2 linked regions of the Homo sapiens genome follow. The protein of the gene in region 1 binds, or shares a complex with, the protein of each later gene. Each region holds a gene or a part of one and is shown on either strand. Other genes may lie near its edges. The genes, in order: FAM181B and TEAD4. A codon is read from its position in the direction of its gene.

Region 1 (10,980 bases):
GCCAACCAGAGACAGGTTTTTAAAGTGAATTTGAAACATAGTAACTGGACTGTTCATCCCTATTGGGATAGGTTTTGAAGACAAAAAATGTGAATGACAAAGAAAAAGGAATTAAACTGTTTGTAGTAGTTGTGTTGTTTGTAAGAATATTGGCATTGTTATTCCAAAACTATTGCACATATTGTAGCACATATATAAAACAGCATAAAAAAGAATATGAATCTGATCAAGCCTCTACAACTATTTCTCATTTACAGGAAACACATGGACCATAGAAACATGTTAGGTGGCATCGTAGAGACAGATGCAACCAACCAAGTACAGAATGTGGGAAAGTTGACAAGATAAAGATGCAGTTTCTTCAACAAACAAATCACAAAGAAAACAAAACAGTAAGTGTATGTGGTTATATATTAAAAGAGATTTAAGAGACATACCAAACAAATTCTTTGTCTTTTCTTCCATTAAGGGGTAAATTCTAATTTCCCTTCCTTTGAATCTGAGCTGGCCTTAATGACTTGCCTGACCGATAGGAAGTTGTGAAAGTGACATTCTGGGAATTCTTGGGCTAGGTCATAAGAAGCCTGGCAGGTGCCACATGGGCCTCTTGCAGCGCTGCCTCCAGTATTCCTGAAGCTCCACATAAGAAGTCTGAGTACTCTTAGACCAACATACTGGAGAGGCCAGTATGTGTAGGTGCAGGTGCAGTCATGTGAATGATGCCATGTTGAATCCTCCAGGCCAGCCATTGTCAACGTCACATGAACCAGGAGGATCACCTAGCCAGCTCTTCCTCAAATTTCTTACCCATATTATTGTGAGATGTAATAAAATGGTTGTTGATTTAAGCCACTAAGTTTTGGAGTAATTTGTTATATAACTATAGATAACCAGAATAACATCTAATATTTTAAGACATAAATTAAAATCTAGTGTTAGTAGAATCTGGTTTGCAGGGGAAAACGATAAGAAAGAAAACAAGAGACATTTGTGAGGGTGCACAATTTGTAAGGTAACACTCTATTGTGATGATGATAATGATACTTTATAAGTCATGTGGTAAAATTCAGGAATTAATTTGCTTTATTCGAGATTTAAAAAATAATGAATGACAGGAAATTGGTTTGGGAAGGGAGAGAAAAACAGATGCATAATTATTTCTTTCATTATGAATGTACATTCCTGACATCTCTGAGGGCTAAGATTGTCCTGCAGGGAATATGATTAAAGTTACAAAAGACGAAAACAAAATAAATAAGTCAGCTTTTGATCCTGCTGCTATATTTACCCACAAGAAAGGAGGCAGCTCTCAGGTGGGCTTTTGTCTAAGTAATGTCCTGAAATCCAAGTGTAAAAGAACAATATGAAATCTCAATTCTCCCAAACGGTTTGGGGCGAGTTCAGCCCTTGAGCCCCTGGGGGACTTGGTTCCCAAGGAGACTAATCCCACTTGCACAGCATTAAGCGTCACTGGGGTGAAAGAGCTCTAGTTTGGAGTTCTGCAGAGAGCCCCTACTGCAGGCTGGAGCCGGGTCCCTCTGCTCCATAGGAAGTGAAATGTATTGATGTCAAAGCCACTCAAATGAATGTGCTCACTCAGGGAGTAGGAGGAGGGACTGATGGGCTTGGCTAGAGCTGGCTACTAACTTTACTGAAACCAATTTCATTCCAGATAGAGCTCTTCCTCAAAGGAAAGGAGATCAAGGGAAAAAGCAGCCAAGGCCTTGAGGCTGGGTCTATATGTACAATTTAGTTGGACAGTGGAAGCTCTAAGGATTTATTTTGGTCTCAGGTATAGAATTACTTCAAGCAGAAGCTGTTCTTTGTTGCCCTATTGCCTACATTTTCCCATAAACACCACTGCTTTCATTTAGCCATGCCTCTGCCCAGGCTGTTCTCTCTGCCACAGATATTGTGTGTTTGCTTTACACAGTCAGATATATCATTTAAGTCTTAGCTCAAATGCTGCATGTCTATGCAGCCTTCTCCAACTCCTGTGGGCAGACTTGAGGGTCCTTTTACTTCCATTGGACATGTATCACATTATATTACAATGGCTTGTTTGCATATTTGTCTTTCCACCCAAAGGGTAGAAATCATGGCTTCTTATCTCTGTATCCCCAGTACTAGCATAGCGCTGAGCACATTGTGGGTGTCAATATCTTTCTGTTGGAAAAAATCAGTGACTGGATGGATATTTATTTGTAAGGATCAATTTTGTGAATCAGGCTATAGAACTTCTAAGCCATGAATTTCAGCTCCATGGTTTACAAAAACTTCAATTTCCATTATCTTATTGATTTTCACAATAGCCCTATCAAATAGGATTATGTTATTATTCCCCATTTATGGATGGGAACATCGAGGTCCTGAAGGTTAAGTGACTTTTCCATAGGCAGTCAGATAATAAAGGCAGGACTGGACTCCAGTGTCAGTCTCCGGCTCCAGTTTTAGCACTCTCTCTCCTGTATTTCATTGTCTTTTTGTAAGTTTCTACAACCCCCAAGTATAGCTACTCTCTTGCATTTGAAAATAGTCACTCACTTTGCTGAGGGAAAGGACAAATGATGCTGGTTTCATAGGGTAATGTGTTGGTAAGGAATGGGTGGGGCCTAAGGAATCAAGAACATGGACATTTGTTGAACTGCTATTTTGTGTGAGGTGCTTTTATATATACCATCTCACAACAACCTTGAGGAGTTGAGATTATCTCCACTGTGCAGGTGAGAAAAGTAAGATTCAGAGGCATTACTTGCCTGTTATGTCATGTAATTCTCACCCTGAGAACAATTATGACCATTCCCTTTTTTCAGATAAGGAGTTTGAGCCTTTGGAATATGAACTGACTTGTCCAAGCAGTTCAATAGCAATAGGCAGGGCCAGAATTTGAACCTGGCCTCATCTAACTTCAAATCAACTTTGATGTGCAGAACTCCAATAGAAATGAAGAAAGACTTTTACATATGAAGCTTTTCATATTCCATTTATTTTGAATATGATTTTAGGATTTAGATAACCCTGGGGATTAAGAGTTTTTTCGGAATAAGATGTCGATTAAATGTAGAGTACTGTGCAATTGGTGTCCAAGGACTTGTAAGAGTGCTCAGTTGACAGAAGGTGAAAAAAAAAAAAAGTTAGTGCTTTTGGCTGCCAGACCTGGAAGCCTATGGAATGGCCCTGTTGGAAAGGGGATGGGCAGTGCTGACATCCACATCTGGAGTGGAAGAAGCACAAATCAGTGACAGGTCTGCACAATTTTCTGAATGTGAATACCACCAAGAGTAAAACAGACAGTTCGGCCATGGAGGACAAAATGCTGTGTGTAACTCAAATGAAAAGTCCATGATAATTGAGCCAATTTGAATTTAAAATAAAAAGTTTGGCTCAGCTATGTGGGTTTGGGAAGTGGCTACTTCATCTTCTAAATGAAAAATGTTCATCTGGCCTTTTTTCTTTCTTTCTTTTTTATTATACTTTAAGTTCTAGGGTACATGTGCACAATGTGCAGGTTTGTTACGTATGTATACATGTGCCATGTTGGTGTGCTGCACCCATTAACTTGTCATTTACATTAGGTATATCTCCTGACGCTATCCCTCCCCCATCCCCCCACCCCACGACAGGCCCCGGTGTGTGATGTTCCCCACCCTGTGTCCAAGTGTTCTCATTGTTCATTTCCCACCTGTGCAGTGTTTGGTTTTCTGTCCTTGCGATAGTTTGCTCAGAATGATGGTTTCCAGCTTCATCCATGTCCCTACAAAAGACATGAAGTCATCCTTTTTTATGGCTGCATAGTATTCTATGGTGTATATGTGCCACATTTTCTTAATCCAGTGTATCACTGATAGACATTTGGGTTGGTCCCAAGTCTTTGCTATGTGAATAATAGTCTTTGCTATGTGCCACAATAAACATACGTGTGCACGTGTCTTTATAGCAGCAAGATTTATAATACTTTGGGTATATACCCAGTAATGGGATGGCTGGTTCAAATGGTATTTCTAGTTCTAGATCCTTGAGGAATCGCCACACTGTCTTCCACAATGGTTGAACTAGTTTACAGTCCCACCAACAGTATAAAAGTGTTCCTATTTCTCCACATGCTCTCCAGCACCTGTTGTTTCCTGACTTTTTAATGATCGTCATTCTAACTGGTGTGAGATGGTATCTCATTGCGGTTTTGATTTGTATTTCTCTGATGGCCCATCTGGCCTTTTTTCTTTGGTAAGGCTGTGCCTTCATGGTGTTCAAAAATGGTTTCGCTACATCTACAAAGTGAGGCTTAATAAAAAGAGTTTTGAAAGAGATGGTCTATGTCTCTCCTATGCAAGCTCTGTATCGAAACTAGAGTAACTTATTTAGAGAACACTTTATCACACACACAGTGTTTTCATATAGAGACAGTCCCCAACTTATGATGGTTCAACTTTATGATTTTCCAACTTGAATCAGTGTATTACATGCATTTTAACCTACAATATTTTCAACTTACAATGTGTTTATCAGGATGTTGTTGCTCTATCACAAATTGAGAAGCATCTATGATCTCACTTAATGCTCATGAACACCCTATGATCCAGAAGACACGTAAGGGATATAGTCACCTTTTTGTGTTTCAGAGAAGTAAGGGTGAATACTCATCCAGGCTATGGAACAATGTATCATTTAAATATCACAAGTGCCCTGTGGGGAGGGCAACTTTACCTGCATTTAACATGAGTAAGCTAAACAGAGAGAGTACGCTGGTTTGTCTAAAGCCATGCACTCAGCAGAGCAAGGATTTCAACCTAAGTCATGAGGTTATTGAGTGGTGGCTAAGACCAGAACCCAAGCCTCTTCTGAATCTCTTGTGAAAATGACCTTATTGCTCATTTTCTCTATCTATCCCAAAGAGGATTGCCCAGGTGAAATTAGTTTTAAGTGAACTTCATGATGATCCCTGAAATGCAATGAAAATTCCAGGGATAACCTAAATGGTATGACAGGTAGGGGAGAGGTTCCAATCCATCTTTTATTCTAACATGCTGAGAGTTTTATACACACACAGTGTTCTCAAGTAACAGGGGGCTTAGCCAGATCGACTCCTTTCTCCATTGCCTCCTGCTATGTGTTAATAAAAGATGGGCCACTGCTGGCCTCAATTTACTGTTAGCCAATTGTTACTCGTAACAATCAAGTGGCAAACAGTCAAGAAGAAAGAGCACTGGGCTTGAGAATCCTGGGAAAACTCAGGTTAGAATCTTAGGATCAGGTCTAGAGCTTTAAGAAATACTCATTTTCCTTCCCCATCTTAATAGATGAGAAAGGCAAGGGCAAGAGAGGACGCAAGTATTGTCAAGGGCTTAGGAATGGCTTTGGAGTCAGAATGGGCTAGATCTGACTTTGGCCAACTCACTGAACCTCCCTGAGGTGCAGTGTCCACGTTTGTTGAATGGCGATAACATGTAATTCACAGGGCTGTTGTTCAAGGATTAAATGAGATAATAGATGGACAGCGCCTGGCAGAAGCAAGCGCCCAGAAGCTGGTGGGTGTTGTTATACAGCTGGACTGAAACCCACGTCTCTAGACTCCTGCCTTCTTGCCTCAGGAGAGGCACCACCGCAAGTACCTGCAGAAGCCTATCAAGCGCTGCAGCGGCCTCATGGGCCTGAACTGGAGTTTGAGACCAGCCATCTCTTCCTCACCCCTTGCGGTTAGAGGAGTCAAGAGAAACACCACGGGGCAAAGGGAAACGAAGGAGTTAAGGCGTTGAGCTTCAGAAAGCTCAGAAAACTAAAGCGACCCCCCACTCCTCCAAGCCAGGCTAAGTAAGCCCCTCCCCTCTACCACCGGGACGGTCGCCGCGCGCTCCCTCCCTCCGCCCCTTGCTTACAAGACCTAATGAGCTCCCCCGGGAGGCAGCGCAGCGAGCCAGGCCCGGAACTAGTAGGCTGCGCCGCGCGCGCCGCGCCGGGGCGGGAGCTGGGTCTGGGCGGCGGGCAGGAGCTGGCGGGGGCGCACGGGCAGCGCTGCGGACAGCCCGGGAGCCGCGGCGATGGCGGTGCAGGCGGCGCTCCTCAGCACGCACCCTTTCGTGCCCTTCGGCTTCGGGGGCTCCCCGGACGGGCTAGGGGGCGCCTTCGGAGCCCTGGACAAGGGCTGCTGTTTCGAGGACGATGAGACCGGGGCTCCGGCGGGTGCGCTGCTGTCGGGAGCCGAAGGAGGGGACGTGCGCGAGGCCACCCGCGATCTACTCAGCTTCATTGACTCGGCGTCCAGCAACATCAAGCTGGCGCTGGACAAGCCGGGCAAGTCGAAGCGGAAGGTGAACCACCGCAAGTACCTGCAGAAGCAGATCAAGCGCTGCAGCGGCCTCATGGGCGCCGCGCCCCCCGGCCCGCCCTCCCCGAGCGCCGCCGACACGCCAGCCAAACGGCCGCTGGCCGCCCCTAGCGCCCCGACAGTCGCGGCCCCGGCCCACGGCAAGGCTGCCCCCCGGCGGGAGGCGTCGCAGGCCGCCGCGGCCGCCAGCTTGCAAAGCCGAAGTCTGGCCGCGCTCTTCGACTCGCTGCGCCACGTCCCCGGGGGTGCCGAGCCGGCGGGGGGTGAGGTGGCTGCGCCGGCGGCCGGGCTAGGAGGTGCGGGCACTGGGGGCGCGGGAGGGGACGTGGCAGGCCCCGCGGGGGCCACGGCGATCCCAGGGGCCAGGAAGGTCCCGCTGCGGGCACGCAATCTGCCTCCGTCCTTCTTCACGGAGCCGTCCCGGGCAGGCGGCGGCGGGTGTGGCCCGTCGGGGCCGGACGTGAGCTTGGGCGACCTGGAGAAGGGCGCGGAGGCCGTGGAGTTCTTTGAGCTGCTGGGGCCCGACTACGGCGCCGGCACGGAGGCGGCAGTCTTGCTTGCCGCCGAGCCTCTCGACGTGTTCCCCGCCGGAGCCTCCGTACTGCGGGGACCCCCGGAGCTGGAGCCCGGCCTCTTTGAGCCGCCGCCGGCAGTGGTGGGAAACCTACTGTACCCCGAGCCCTGGAGCGTCCCGGGCTGCTCCCCGACCAAAAAGAGCCCCCTGACTGCCCCCCGCGGCGGCTTGACCTTGAACGAGCCCTTGAGCCCCCTGTACCCCGCCGCTGCGGATTCTCCCGGCGGGGAGGACGGGCGGGGCCATTTGGCCTCTTTCGCCCCCTTCTTTCCAGACTGCGCCCTGCCCCCGCCGCCGCCGCCCCATCAGGTGTCCTACGATTACAGCGCGGGCTACAGCCGCACCGCCTATTCCAGCCTTTGGAGATCCGACGGGGTTTGGGAAGGGGCGCCGGGGGAGGAGGGGGCGCACCGGGACTGACTTCGAGGCACGCTTCCCTTCATTAGAGACGGCTGTGGAGAGCGCCGCGCCTCCGTGGGTTTCTCCTAAATCTGAAGAACGATGGGAAAATGCACGTGGAGATGAAACCAGATTTTTAAAAATTCAATTAATAAAAGCAACTTCAGAAAAAAGAGATGAAGACGAGTTGGGGATTGTTTAATCACAACCTCAAGTGTTAAAACAAAAACAAACAAACACGTTTGTAGGTTCTTACTGGACCAGAGGAGTCAAGAAACCAAGATGGTTTGGGGTATGGGGTGGGGACGGCAAAAGGGGTAAGAGCTGGCTTCTGTAGCCACCTGTCCCTTCTATTTTTCAGCGAAGGTCAGTGTATTTAGTGTAATTACCCCTTCTAAACAGTGTCCTAGTCCCTCCCTTCCCTCTCCTTGAGTGCATTTTGAATTAAAGCCTATATTGAAAAGAATGGAGGTGAGACTTACTGATTTGGGTGTTTTCTTACAGGACGGTTTTCCGTCTGGTCGCTTAGCTTTGTTAGGTGAGCCTGTGGCTGAGGGAGGAGGCCGGTGGTCCACTGCTGACCTCCTGTGCTTGTCCTTGGGTAGGGTTCTCTTCTGTCACGGTTTAACTCTTTTTTCTGCCCGCTTCCTGCTTCCATCTCCCTCCACCCTTATCACAGTCCCAGTGCTTACTTTCCTTCTTTCTTTGCCTGGCCTCTCATTATTCTATTTCTTTCGGCCGGCTTTTCTTGCACATCTCTTTTGTAGGAGACTTAAATTTGGCAAACCTGGGTTCCATTTCTCTCCTGTCTTTTCCCCATTTTCCAGCCACTTTGGGAGGGAGAGGGTGGGCAAACTGTAACCTCTTTGTATCAATTTTCGTGATCTGAGAGGGTGAAGACGGTAATGTTCTTCTACTCACTTCACAACTGGTTGGGTAGCTCAGAGGGAAATAAGTAAAATGTCTTGAGGCTGTGGCAGTGCTTGATTGGTTCTGCTGTGTATATATAAATGGTTTCTACACACGGAAACAGAGTTGTGAGTCCCATGCCTTTTTTGGCGGGGGGCTATCTACTTGCCTGGTGATTGCCCTTTCCCTTACAAGCTGTACATCCTCTTTACCATCCCTCCTTCTCTCCTTCCACAGCTCCCCTTCCACCTCTGTTGGTTTCTGCCTCCCTTTGTTTCCTCAGTCCTTATACCCACACTCTCCCCACGGAAGGGCATAAAGAAAGGTGTGAAGTTTCCAAAGGAATTTCTGTTCCCTGAATAGCAGGTCTGATGAATGGAATCTGAAGGGGCTCTGCAGGGAGGAGTATGATCTGTTGTCCGAGGGAGATTTGGGGAAAAAGAAATATTTTTACCAGCCATGAATGTGGCAGAGAGGACACATGGCACCAATAGGTTGGTTAAGGGGCAGGGGAGGAAAGACTGGTGGGAAGTGAGCAGCTGGAGGGAAAAGAGGAGCCCTTGGTGCTGTAGAACTGCGGGGAGAAAGGCATGAAGAGAGCAACGCCCAGAACATCTGAGTGAGAGGCTGCCTTCTGATGATGCTGCAAAGGAGAGCTGCTTGGCTTCAAGGCACCCAGGATTGATTGCAGGAATATCTGGATGTGAGTTAGTTGAAAACCGAGTGTTACCGCAAGAGGTGTAAAAATCCAGGTTCATGTTTGCACACATCAAAAGTATTGTGATATTTTCATAAAAGAATTTCTGGAAAAAATGAGTATTAACCAATGGTAGATGCAACTTTAAATGCTATCAGTAAGTCATTTTCTTCTGAATAAAGCCTTTCTTAAGAAAGCACCACAGGAAATAGAACGAGTACTGTTAATGATGAAAAGAACTTTTGCAACTCCAGAAAGCTAATGTCTATTGGATTTCTTCCAAAGTGGTTAAAGGTGATTAATTCCATTGTGCTAACAGAATATTACTTAATAACGATTTAATTTGTCTAAACTGTTGTGAATACAATCCAGGATACACTTGCACAGTAGGAAAACATTAATAACCCTGTGACTGTTACTAAGACTATAGTGTCATTGTAATGTTTCTTAATTCTCCTCTCCTTTCTTACCTAGTGTAGTAAAACAGGTTATCTCTCTCCTACTGTTTTGCTTGCTATACGTTTAATTAATAATAATATCAACATTGTTTCCGCATCCCAGGCATTTAAGCTAACTCACTGAGCCTCTTAATATTGCCATGATGTAGGTGCTTGATACTGTTTGGATCTGTGTCCCTAGCCAAATGTCATCTCTAATTGTAATCCCCACATGTCGAGGGAGGTCCTAGTGGAAGGTGATTGGATCATGGGGGTGGTTTCCTCCATGCTGTTCTTGTGATAGTGAGGGAGTTCTCATGAGATCTGATGGTTATAAAGTGTGGCACTTCCTTGCTATCTCTCTCTCCTGCCACCATGTAAGACGTGCCTTCCTGCTGCTTCACCTTCTGCCATGATTGTAAGTTTCATGAGGCCTCCCAGCCATGTGGAACTGTGAGTCAATTAAACCTCTTTCATTTATAAATTACCCAGTCTCAGGTAGTATCTTTATAGCAGTGTGAGAACAGACTAATACAGTACTGTCATTATCCCTATTTGAAAACTGAGGCTCAGGTAAGATAAATAGCTTGTCAACAGCAAGTGGTGGATCCAAGATCCAAATATACAAGTGTCCTAATACCAAGACCTGCCTGTTACTTGCCAGGCTCTCCTGTGCTTTGTACATGTGTGTGGTTTCCAGTTCCCTGTATTATGGTACTAGCAGGTTTTTTCAACTTCAGCACTATTGACATTTTGGGTGTCATAATTCTTTGCTGTGGGAGCTATCCTGTGCATTGTAGAGTGTTTAGCAGCACCCCTGGCCTCTACCCATTCGAAGCCAGTAGCACTGCCTTAGTTGTGACAATAGAAAAATATCCCCATTACCTCATGTCTCCCTGGGAGGAAAAATTACTGCCAGTTGAGAACCACTATGCTAGAGAAATGTATATAGAAAGTGTCTGTGGGGTGTTTGGTGCTTTCATATACATTATTTCCTTTGTTCCCTACAGAGGCCTGTGCTTCGGTGTTATTATCTTCATTGTTATAGGTGACAAATAAGAAAGGCCAAGGGGAGGGGCTAAATCAACTTAGGTGCATCTCATCTCTGCTGATTTACCTGCAGTGAACGAGTAACTTAACCAAATTGAAGCATGGTTTATGCATTGGAAAAATTGGATAACGATCGATCACAAAGCGTTATTGTGATTTGGCATAGGGTATATATAAATATCCTCTAAGAGGAAGGGGGCAGTACTTAGTAGCAGACAACCAAGGCTTGGCATTATGTCAAGGTTCCAATCCATCCTGTTACTCAGGTCCCTATGTAGCCCTATTCCTCCCCACCTTGCCTTCCAGTCTGGGCACATAATGTGTCTGACCATGCCGCTTACTGTAGTACAGTAAGTACTGCCCATTAGTAATTGTTTTGCCAAGGACTGAAATTATTGTTTCCTCTGTTATATCAGTTTCTGCTGAAAGCTGTTAGAATCTTTTTTTTAAAAAAAATCTCTTGCTTAGCCACATCCCTGCCCATAGAGAATTCTTTTTTTTTTTTAAGACAGTGTCTCACTCTTGTCACCCAGGCTGGAGTGCAGTGGCGTGATCTCGGCTCACTGCAACCTCCGCCTCCCAGGTTCAAGCA
Region 2 (10,704 bases), on another chromosome or scaffold:
AGGCCGGACTGCAGTGGTGCCATCTCGGCTCACTGCAAGCTCCGCCTCCCGGGTTCACACCATTCTCCTGTCTCAGCCTCCCGAGTAGCTGGGACCACAGGCGCCTGCCACCACGCCCGGCTAATTTTTTGTATTTTTAGTAGAGACGGGGTTTCACCGTGTTAGCCAGGATAGTCTCGATCTCCTGACCTCGTGATCCGCCCGCCTTGGCCTCCCAAAGTACTGGGATTACAGGCGTGAGCCACCGCGCCTGGCCTTTTTTTTTTTTTTTTTTTTTTAATGGAAGACTTCACGAATTTGTGAGCTCGGGGCCATGCTAATCTTCTCTGTATCAGTATCCAATTTTAGTATATGTGCTGCCCAGGCAAGCACCACAATGTGATATTTTCATATGTGTAAAGGGTTTTGTTTTTTAAAGATGTGGAGAAATTAGGGAAGGGTTAGATATATAGTTCTAGTCACATTTGTCCCTGATTATAAACTACAAGTTTGTTACAGAAAATAAAGAATAGGAGGCCGGGCGCTGTGGCTCACGCCTGTAATCCCAGCACTTTGGGAGGCCGAGGCGGGTGGATCACGAGGTCAGGAGATTGAGACCATCCTGGCTAACAAGATGAAACCCCGTCTCTACTAAAAAATACAAAAAATCAGCCCGGCGTTGTGGCGGGCGCCTGTAGTCCCAGCTACTCAGGAGGCTGAGGCAGGAGAATGGCGTGAACCCAGTAGGCAGAGCTTGCAGTGAGCCGAGATGGCGTCACTGCACTCCAGCCGGGGCAGCAGAGCGAGACTCCGTCTCAAAAAAAAAAGAAAAGAAAAGAAAGAATAGGGCTGGGTGCAGTGGTGCATGCCTGTAATCCCAGCTACTGGGGAGGCTGAGGCAGGAGAATTGCTTGAACCTGGGAGGCGCACGTTGCAGTGAGCCAAGATTGTGCCATTGCACTCCAGCCTGGGCGACGAAAGCAAAATTCTGTCTTAAAAAAAAAAAAAAAAAGAATAAAAACAAGAAACTAGATCCCCTTAATTTGCAAACTTTCAGAAATAATCCCTTTAAAATACTTTTTCAACTTTTTTCAAAAACAGGGTCATCTGATATATAGTTTTTATTTATTTATTTATTTTATTTTATTTTTTGGAGACGGAGTTTCGCTCTTGCTGCCCAGGCTAGAGTGCAATGGCGCAATCTCTGCTCACCGCAACCTCTGCCTCCAGCGTTCAAGCAATTCTCCTGTCTCAGCCTCCTGAGTAGCTGGGATTACAGGCATGCGCCACCACGCCCGGCTAATTTTCTATTTTTAGTAGAGACGGGGTTTCTCCACGTTGGTCAGGCTGGTCTCGAACTCTCAACCTCAGGTGATCCGCCCGCCTCAGCCTCCCAAAGTGCTGGGATTACAGGTGTCAGCCACCACGCCCAGCTATTTATTTATTTTTTGAAATGGAGTTTCACTCTTGCTGCCCAGGCTGGAGTGCAACGGTGCGATTTAGGCTCACTGCCACCTCCACCTCCTGTGTTCAAGTGATTCTCCTGCCTCAGCCTCCCAAGTTGCTGGGACTAAAGGCGCGTGCCATCGCGCCTGGCTAATTTTTTGTATTTTTAGTAGAGATGGGGTTTCACCATGTTGGCAAGGCTGGTCTCGAACTCCTGACCTCAGGTGATCCGCCTGTCTCAGCCTCCCAAAGTGCTGGAATTACAGGTGTGAGCCACCATGCCCAGCCCCTATATATAATTTTTAGAATCTGCTTTTCCACTTATATCATGAATGTGTCTGGTTTATTTTATATTATTTTATTTATTTTTTCTGAGACAACGTCTTGCTCTGTCGCCCAGGCTGGAATGCAGTGGCGAGGTCACGACTCACTGCAGCCTTGACCTCCCGAGCTCAAACAAGCCTCCCACTTCAGCCTCCCAAGTAGCTGGGACCAGAGGTGTGTGCTACTATGCCCAGCTAATTTTTATTTATTTATTTATTTGGTAGAGGTAAGGTCTCATTATATTGCTCAGGCTGGTCTCAAACTCCTGGGCTGAAGAGATCCTCCAACCTCGGCCTCCCAAAGTACTGGGATTACTGATGTGAGCCACTGTGCCCAATTAATTGATTTTTAACTTTGACTTTGGAATATAGCCAACACAAATACCCCTACATGAAACCACCCAGCCCTGCCCACACCCTTACTCTCCTCCTCCTGCACAGTCCATCATCAAGCTTGAGTGAGGATCCATTTGTAGGATCCAGACAGCTGAAATATTTCCACCAAAAGACTCATTCCTGAGGGTCAGTGAATTAGGGTCCTGTCCCTTAAGAAATGTAAACATCCCTGGGAAGGGCTGATGTGTGGGTAAAATCACCTTGCCTTTAACTCTTCAGAATTTGTACATCTGTTAACTTTCCTTTACCTAGACATTCCTCAACAGCTCCAAGCCTGAGGTCCCCAAAGCTCCAGAGCTCTCCAGGAGACTATAAGGGTATGGGCCAGAAAGTCAAGATCCTGAAGACACACCTTCCCAGCTTGGATCACTGATGGTCTTGGATAGTTAAGACTTAGAGGGAATAAAGATCTCCAAGTTCGTTGTCAGCAGTCTACCCTAACCGTGACACTAGGGTTGCTTTCCTGTTTCTACTCTGGACTCTGTCCTGCTTTCCTCTCCGTCCCCTGAACCTGGCTGGATTCCCCTCCGACCTCACCCCACTCCCCTTTTGCTTGAATTTCTTTCTTTCTTTTTTTTTTTTTTGAGACGGAGTTTCATTCTTTTTGCCCAGGCTGCAGTGCAATGTCGTGATCTCAGCTCACTGCAACCTCCACCTCCTGGGTTCAAGTGATTCTCCTGCCTCAGCCTCCCGAGTAGCTGGGATTACAGGCATGCACCACCACGCCCAGCTAATATTGTATTTTTAGTAGAGATGGGGTTTCTCCATGTTGGTCAGGCTGGTCTGGAACTCCTGACCTCGTGATCCACCCACCTCAGCCTCCCAAAGTGCTGGGATTACAGGTATGAGCCACTGTGCCCAGCCCTGAATTCTTATCTCACTTACTGACACCAACCATTGTTCAGCTGTTAAAGGTTAGCGATTTTTGTTTTCTCTCTCACTACACAGCCAAATGATCTGAACCGTTTCCTAGCTCCTTCCCCTCCTCCTCAACCTCAGGACCACTGCTTGAGTTTTAGGGCACCCCGAGTCTCCAGTTCAACTGCAAGACTGTTGCAAGACGGTCTTCTTGATGGTGCTGCTGATTAAGTCACACTTGTGTCTTTTTTGATGCCTAACTCTTCAGCATGGCACGCAATGACCTTCAAAGTCTGGTATCCACTTCCTTCAATCTTATTATCCACATCTCTATTCTCCAGCCACACCAGTTTACATAGCTTCGCTAAACACACCAGCAGACTGGCTGCCTCACCTTTGTAGGTGCTATTCCATGTGTCTTAAATGGGGTTTCCAGTCTCAGTTTGGCAAACCCTCATTTATCCTCAAGAGCTAGATCAAATGCACTGTAATTGGATTTCACTGTTCCTTCCCTTGGGTTCCCATTGAACTTTGCATAATTGTCTGTCTTCTCACCTAGACTGGAACTACTTGAGGAAAGGGACCTACTCCTTCCCTTAGTGCGGTGTCAAAGTCAACAAACACTCCAATGATTGCTGAATTAATATAATTATTATTAATTACTTTGAGACAGGGTTTCGCTCTGTCATCCAGGCTGGTGTGTAGTGGTGCATTCACGGCTCACTGCAGCCTCAACTTTCTGGGGTCAAACTATCCTCCCACCTCAGCCTCCTGAGTAGCTGGGACTACAGGTGCAGGCCACCATGATGCCCAGGCTGATCTCGAACTCCTGGGCTCAAGCGATCCACCTGCCTCGGCCTCCCAAATTGCTAAGATGACAGGCGTGAGCCACCGGGCCCCCCATGATTGCTGAATTAAATAGTTGGTGCTTAGTGTGTACTTCACGTGGCGCTGATATGCTGCCTTGCGTTTTGGTCTTTTCATGTGCATGAGGTGTGACCAAGCCTTGATATGATTCATTATTTAACAAGAATACCACAATTCATCTATTCAAATGAGGGCTGCGTCTTCAACGCCTTCACCTTGCAGGACTGGATGCTTAGCTCAGTCATTGCTTGAAACACTTTTGGAATACCTCTCTTGGAAACAACTTTGGCATCGATAGCACTTTCCTTTCAATATCTTCCACGGTAGCAATTGTTTTTCATTTATGCAGCATTTATCATGCACTTCCCTATCCCAGGCACCAGGCTGGATCTGTGTGAAAGATAAGATAAATCAGACATTACTCTGTCTTCAAGGAAGTTTCTGTTTGGCAAGGGAGATAAGATCTAGACAACCACCCAACACAAGGCTAAGTGATAATGCCCCAGAAAAGGTTGGATTTGATTTTTGGAAAAAGCCAAAAGTCCTTTGGTTTCAGTCTCCTGGCCAGGTAGATGATGGCGCTACCTGCCAGCACACTGCTTTAAGCCCGTTTGTCCTAAGCGTCTCCAAACAAGGAGCCCAGCGTGTTTCCAGCACCTCCTGCCCCAATAAGAGACTCCTGGGCATGTGTGTCTGAAGTCCAGACTCTCACCGATGGCAGTATACACCGAGGCCTCCCCAGCTAAACTCTGAGCTCTTTGAGGGCAGGTGCTGACGGCTGATCCTGATCTTCACAGTATCTGGACTCATCACACATCTTAGATGAATATTCATTGAGTCACTGAGCCCAGAAGGCGTCCCATGGCATGCCACATGGACTTCAAACCGAGTGCCCTTTCTCCCATGTGGTTTACTCGTAGTGGCGGTTTTACAGATGCCCAAGGGGCAGGAGAGAAAAACGGAAAGAGCTAAAGCCGGGGAGGGCAAGCGAGGGGGCACTGGCAGCGGATCTGGGAATGGAGCCCGCGAGTTCCTGCTTCCTGGTTCCCCGGAGCAAGTGTCCTTTGGTGGGAGCCGCAGGAAGGGAGCAGCCCTTCCTGCGCGCCGGGAGCCCGCCCCTTCCCCGGCCTCCCAGGGACTCGTGCGGAGGGACGCCGGGTGGCGGGGCGGGAGTCTGGGCCCCGTCCACCCCCCCGCCCCCGGGACAGCCCCACCCCGGCGAAGAGGAAGGCTCTCGGCTCCTGGGAAAGGGAGTCGGGACCCCGCCAGGAGGGGAGGGCGCGGGGCGCGCAACGAGCAGCCAAACAGTCGGAGCGGAGAGATCGAAGGGCTAGTGGGCGTGGGGGCCGCAGCCGAGGCCCGGGTGGAGGGGTCCCCGCCGTCCCTCGGCCCCCTCCCCCGCCGCCCGCCCCGGCCCGGCCCGGCCCCGCCCCGCCCCGGCGGCCCGGCCCCTCGCCCGCCCGCGCGCGGCGCAGTCTCCTCCCCGAGGTGCCGGTGGCCCCGCCGCCACTCCCTCCGGCTCCCTCCCTCCCGCCGCGGCGCGCATCTCATTCCAGCCCTCATTCCGCGCATTCCAGCGTCCTCCTCGCACACTCGAGGCCAGGGGGCGGGAGGGCCGCAGCTCCGGCGCCGCCGCGTCCCGCCAGGTGAGAGGCGCCCGCGCCCGCCGCACCCGCCGGCGCCCTCACGGGCCGCGCGCCCCACGCCGCCGCAGCCGACCGCTCGCGCCGCGTGCTCGGCTGCTCTTTTCTTTCCGCCGCCCGCGTTCCCGCCTTGGACCTCTGCGCTCCGACGCGCTCCGTCCCGACCTCTGGCTTCCCTCCGCGCTCCGGCGCTGCTCGCTGCCCCTCTCCCGCTTCCCTCCTGTCCGCCCCGCGCTCCCCTCCTCGCTCCCGGTTGACTCACTCCTCCAGGAATAGGGATCCCCGTGTTTTCCCGTCAGTCCCATTCTGGGAAAACTCCTCCCTCCGCGCGCTCCGCTCCGCTCCGCTGGGCGCACCGGGGCCGGTCGGCGCGGGGTGGGCTTGGCCCCGCGGCCCCGCCTTCACTGCGCCGCCCGTCGGCCCCGGCCGGAGCCCGGCTCTGCGCGCTGACGCCCTGTCGTCCCCGCAGAACGATCGCCGCGGCCGGAAGAGTTGGCGCTCGGGGCGGACTCCTTGGAACTGGCTTAGCGCACCCATCCCACCTTCCCGCACCCTGGGACCGGTAAGGCTGGGGCGCGGGGACTTGGTAGGACTTTGCCGGAGGGCAGGAGTCTGCGCGGTGCGTGCGGAGCTCCCTCCCGGGACGAGACTGGGAAGAGCGAGGCACGTGGAGGCGGCGCGACTGAGGCTGCTGGAGGCGAAGCGGCTCCAGGGGCGGGTAAGGGGGGTGGACACTCGGGACTTTGGGGGAAAGGGAGGCCGGTGTGGAAAGGACCGGAGAGGCAGAACCGAGAGCATCGGCAACAGAAGAGACCCAGCACCCATGCCTCTTTTCTGCTGGGCCCTTTTCGAGCCTGGAAGGGAGAGACCTGGAGGTAAGCGGACTGCCTGTTTTAAGTGCAAAGGCGATGCGAAAGTCGGGGGACCCCTGCAAAAGGTCCTACACCTCAGGGCTTGGGAAGCTGCTGTGTTTCCTGATGGGGACTAGTGGATCGATCCAGGGAGCAGAACTTTCAAACCCCAAAGTGAACATTTCCCCCGTTGTGCTGAGGCACTTGAGGCCCCGCGGACTGACTGCGTCTGTGCTGAGTCTGTGTGACACCTGACTGCGAGTCCCCCTCGCTTTGAGTCTCTGTGTGGGTGATGTCTGTTCACGTGTGGCTCACCTTGGCTTCCAGTGGGCGTATTTGTTTGTGTTGAACGTGAGTGACAGAGTGTGTGTATATGTCTGCGTGAGAAGGGGCTGTCTGAAAGTGAGTATCTCTGAGTAGGTGTGTGATGCCACGTCTCTTGAGTATGTGTTTCTCTTCGAGGATGTTGGTTCTGGCTAGGACTGTTCTTCCTCCCTACATAGCCGTGGGCAAGAGTCAGTGTCTCTGGTTGCCTGAGTGCAGGGATAATTTGACTGTGGTTTTGGAGTGTGTGGCCTCCAGGCTCCGTTTCCCCTGGACCGGGCAGAGCTGGAAGGAAGCTGGCTCCACCTGCCTCTTGGAGCCAGGAGGCTGACTTTCTCAGGGCGAGGGTCTTGTGCTTGCCTGGAATAGGTCAAAAAGCTGGTAGGAGGCTGAAGGAAGTTGAGATCTTTGCCTTTGGGGGATGGGATGGGCGGGTGAGATTTGGGAAGGTTTGTCGGGGTGGATCCCCGGGAAAAGGAGACAGTTTTGAATCTGGAGACTTGTGTAAATAGTGCTTTTAAGTTGCCCTCAAGGACAAACAGGGAGGTATACCAGCCTGAACTACTTTTCCTGGTTTAACTCTCCTCGGAGCTGACCAGGTAACCCAGTAGAAGAATCCCTCATTCTTTCCAACTTGCCAGACACTCAGCACTTCCTTTGAGAAGAGGAATGAGTAGCTTGTTGCATGAGGGCTTCAACGTGGATATCATGTGTAGGGCTTCTTGGAAGGAAGGAGCCAGAAACTGTCTCGGGGGTTGGGGGTTCTCGTCCTTGCTCCTCCATCCATCCTGAGGATGTGGATGTTCTTGTGGGAAACACCTCACCCTCTCACCTCTTCGGCCTGGTGTGCGACTGGTCTAAAAGCAGCACTGATGGAGTGGAAAGGGCACAGGTTTGGGGTCAGGCAGACCAGGGTACAAATCCTGAGTCTCTCACTACCTTTAAGGCTCTCAGGCTGTTTCCTGGTGGGTAATACGAGCGGAGCTTTTCTGTCCAGAAAGTTTCTTGTGAAAAGTCGATGTCTGCAGAGCCCCCACCCAGCAGCACAGTGCCTGGCACATCCCATGGACTCCATAGGATAGCTGTTGTATCCAGTGTTTCCTTCGCTTATTTCAGTAAGAACCCCTTTTTCCTAGGGATTAGTGTTTTTTGAATTAGTGTTTCTCTGAGCACCATTTGAGAAACCTTGCCCTGTCTATCATGTTTATTTAGCAAACATGAATCGAGCATTTACTGTGAGCCAGGCCCTACGCTGTGTTCCGCGTCCTTAGGAATCCAGGGTCCTAGTGGCCCAGGTCAGGAGGGAGGGGGACAGACAGGGCTTTGTCACCAGAGAACAGAGTGCCAGCTTCTATTTTCTGATTCCAGTTTTGCCTTGGCCCCAGGGTGAGCTTGCTGAACATTATTAGATACCCTAATGTCAGCATCTAAGTCCCCCATTTTATTTTATTTTACTTTATTTTTATTTTATTTTATTTTATTTATTTTTGAGACGGAGTCTCGCTCTGTCGCCTAGGCAGTAGTACAGTGGCATGATCTTGGCTCACTGCAACCTCCGCCTCCTGGGTTCAAGCGATTCTCCTGCCTCAGCCTCCCGGCCGGCTAGTTTCATATATATATATTTATATATATTTATTTATATATATAAATATAAATATATAAATATATATATAAATATAAATATATATATATATTTTTTGAGATGGAGTTTCGCTCTTGTTGCCTAGGCTGGAGTGCGATGGTGCGATCTCGGCTCACCACAACCTCTGCCTCCCGGGTTCAAGCGATTCTCCTGCCTCAGCCTCCCAAGTAGCTAGAATTATAGGCGTGCGCCACCGTGCCCCACTAATTTTGTATTTTTAGTGGAGACGGAGTTTCTCCATGTTGGTCAGGCTGGTCTCCAACTCCCAACCTCAGGTGATCTGCCCACCTTGGCCTCCTAAAGTGCTGAGATTATAGGCATGAGCCACCACTCCCAGCCGTTTTTTGTATTTTTAGTAGAGGCGGGATTTCGCCATGTTTGCCATGCTGGTCTTGAACTCCTGACCTCAGGTGATCCGCCTCGGCCTCCCAAAGTGCTGGGATTACAGGCGTGAGCCACTGCGCCTGGCCTAAGTCTCCCATTTTAAAGATGGGGAAACTGATGCTCCTAGAGGGACAGTAACTTGCTTAATGCCGCAACCCTGGTGAGTGGCAGAGCAGGGATTAGAACCTATGCTCTCCCCTTGGCGTTCTGTCTCCTGCCCTGTGGATTGCAGTGCTTGTACACCCCCTACTCCCCCTAGCCGCCTTCATCCAACAGGCGCGGAAGCTGGAGCAGACTGACTTGGGCCATGCCTTGTCGCTCAGATAAGGTTGGTAGGAGGCAGAAATACTCTGCTCCGACCTGGCAGAAAGCACATAGCTGTTCTGGGGAAGGAGCCATCTCACTGTAGAATCTGTGGAGTCGGGAAGGGGCCCTCGGGTCTTTAAAACACACCCTCCTCTCCCCTTGATGAGCCGGCAGGTGAAGGTTCTCCCTATCTTTTTAGATCTCCTGGGTTGCAAATGTCACAACCTCCTTTGATTTCCACTCTGGAGTCTTGCCCCGGTGACTGTCACAAAGCAATGCCTGTTGCCAAACCTGTGGCTCCTCCTTCTCCTTCCCAGTGGAAGTGGAGGACGTTGGTCCCCAGCTTTGGACCTTGCCTTTCCTGCAGTTGAGGTCAGTCCAGTGGCAGTTGGAAATTCAGGGCTTGTGAGGGTGGCTTTACCTTGCCTGTCTTCCTTTGCCCCCATGACCCTTTGTTGGCCGGGGTTGGACGACAGCTCCCTTTAAAGCTCTGAAATTGGAGCTGAACAGCTGCTGTCCAGTAAAGGGGGGTGAGGGGGCTGTCAGCAGCCAGGAGGGCCCAGGTGGAGGTGGGGGCAGGGCTTTGTCACTGGGGAGAACACGGTCTCCAGCTCCTATCTTCTAATTCCACTTTTGCCTGGACGCTTTCTGAGATGACGGTTCTTCCCTTGCTTTTGGTTTTTCCCGCTACTATCTGGGAGATTCTAATCACACCTGTGTGATCTGGCCCTGGGGCCCTTAGCTGGTGGGGACTGGATATTTGGGAAAATTTCCACTAGAACTCAGGTCTCCAAGATCTATGCCCACGTCCTCCTGCATTTAATACAGGGGGGCTCCTGGAAGGGCCAGAGGATGGGCCAGGCTCCCTGTAGCGGGGGCTGGCTCCTTGGCTTGGTGTGGGCAGGCGGGCCCCCATGGGTGGGGACTCTGCTTCCTTTGACCCAAACTTCATGGGAACAATAGACTTCAGAGGAGTCACCAGGGGCAGGAAATGGGAACTGTGCAGAGCCAGGGGTGACCCTCCTGGGGGATGGGATTGCATATCCGGTAGAGGGTTGGGGGCAGTGCAGAGGGCGCTGGGGAGGGGCTGATGACACATAGGGTGGGCCTCTGGGGTGGGGCCCTCCTCCAAAGGGGGCCGTTGACTCAGTGTGAAGCTAGAGCTCCGTGCCGGTTCTGTGCTGAGCTTTCGGCTCTTACTAGCACAGGGCTCGTGTTTGCCAGCCTCCGCTCGTGCCACGCTCGCCCCTGCCAGGACTTGGTCTTCCCCTTCCCCTCAAGCCCCTGAGATGTCTTTGCGAATCATCCTGGCTGGGATAAAAGGCTGGTGTTGTTGCTCCCTGGCTGGTCTCCACCTTGGCTGTGAGCCTTGGGCAGTTGTGGCTGGAACGGCGATCTTGGGTTGTGGGCAAAGCTCTGGACAGGGAGTCCCCAGGCTGGGGTCGCTGGACAACGTGAGGGATTTCTTTCTTTCTTTTTTTTTTTTTTTGAGACGGAGTTTTGCTTTTGTTGCCCAGGCTGGAGTGCAGTGCTGCAATCTTGGCACACCACAACGTCTGCCTCCTGGATTCAAGCGATTCTCCTGCCTCAGCCTCCTGAGTAGCTGGGATTACAGGTGCCTGCCACCACACCTGGCTAATTTTTTTTTTTTTTTTTTTGTATTTTTAACAGAGACAGGGTATTTC

Evidence for each region.
Region 2: the proteins of FAM181B (region 1) and TEAD4 are in contact, whole or in part, in a crystal structure (PDB 6SEO), measured with the Homo sapiens proteins. Residues at the interface, in NP_787081.2 of Homo sapiens: Pro221 (codon at 6,696), Leu222 (codon at 6,699), Arg223 (codon at 6,702), Arg225 (codon at 6,708), Asn226 (codon at 6,711), Leu227 (codon at 6,714), Pro228 (codon at 6,717), Ser230 (codon at 6,723), Phe231 (codon at 6,726), Phe232 (codon at 6,729), Thr233 (codon at 6,732), Glu234 (codon at 6,735), Pro235 (codon at 6,738); in NP_003204.2 of Homo sapiens: Glu263, Ala264, Val265, Asp266, Gln269, Ile270, Asp272, Lys273, Leu295, Lys297, Trp299, Glu391, Val414, Glu416, Val417, Ser418, Ala419, Ser420, Gly423, Gln425, His426, His427, Tyr429.

Annotation. Positions count from the first base shown.
Region 1 is NC_000011.10:82,728,785-82,739,764, reverse strand, and holds FAM181B (protein FAM181B), read left to right. Parts: upstream 1-5,900; 5' UTR 5,901-6,035; coding exon 6,036-7,316; 3' UTR 7,317-9,825; downstream 9,826-10,980.
Region 2 is NC_000012.12:2,953,967-2,964,670, forward strand, and holds the start of TEAD4 (transcriptional enhancer factor TEF-3), read left to right. Parts: upstream 1-5,430; 5' UTR 5,431-5,515; intron 5,516-5,774; exon of another isoform or gene 5,775-5,981; 5' UTR 5,982-6,074; exon of another isoform or gene 6,075-6,082; intron 6,083-10,704. UniProt on the Homo sapiens protein: Transcription factor which plays a key role in the Hippo signaling pathway, a pathway involved in organ size control and tumor suppression by restricting proliferation and promoting apoptosis.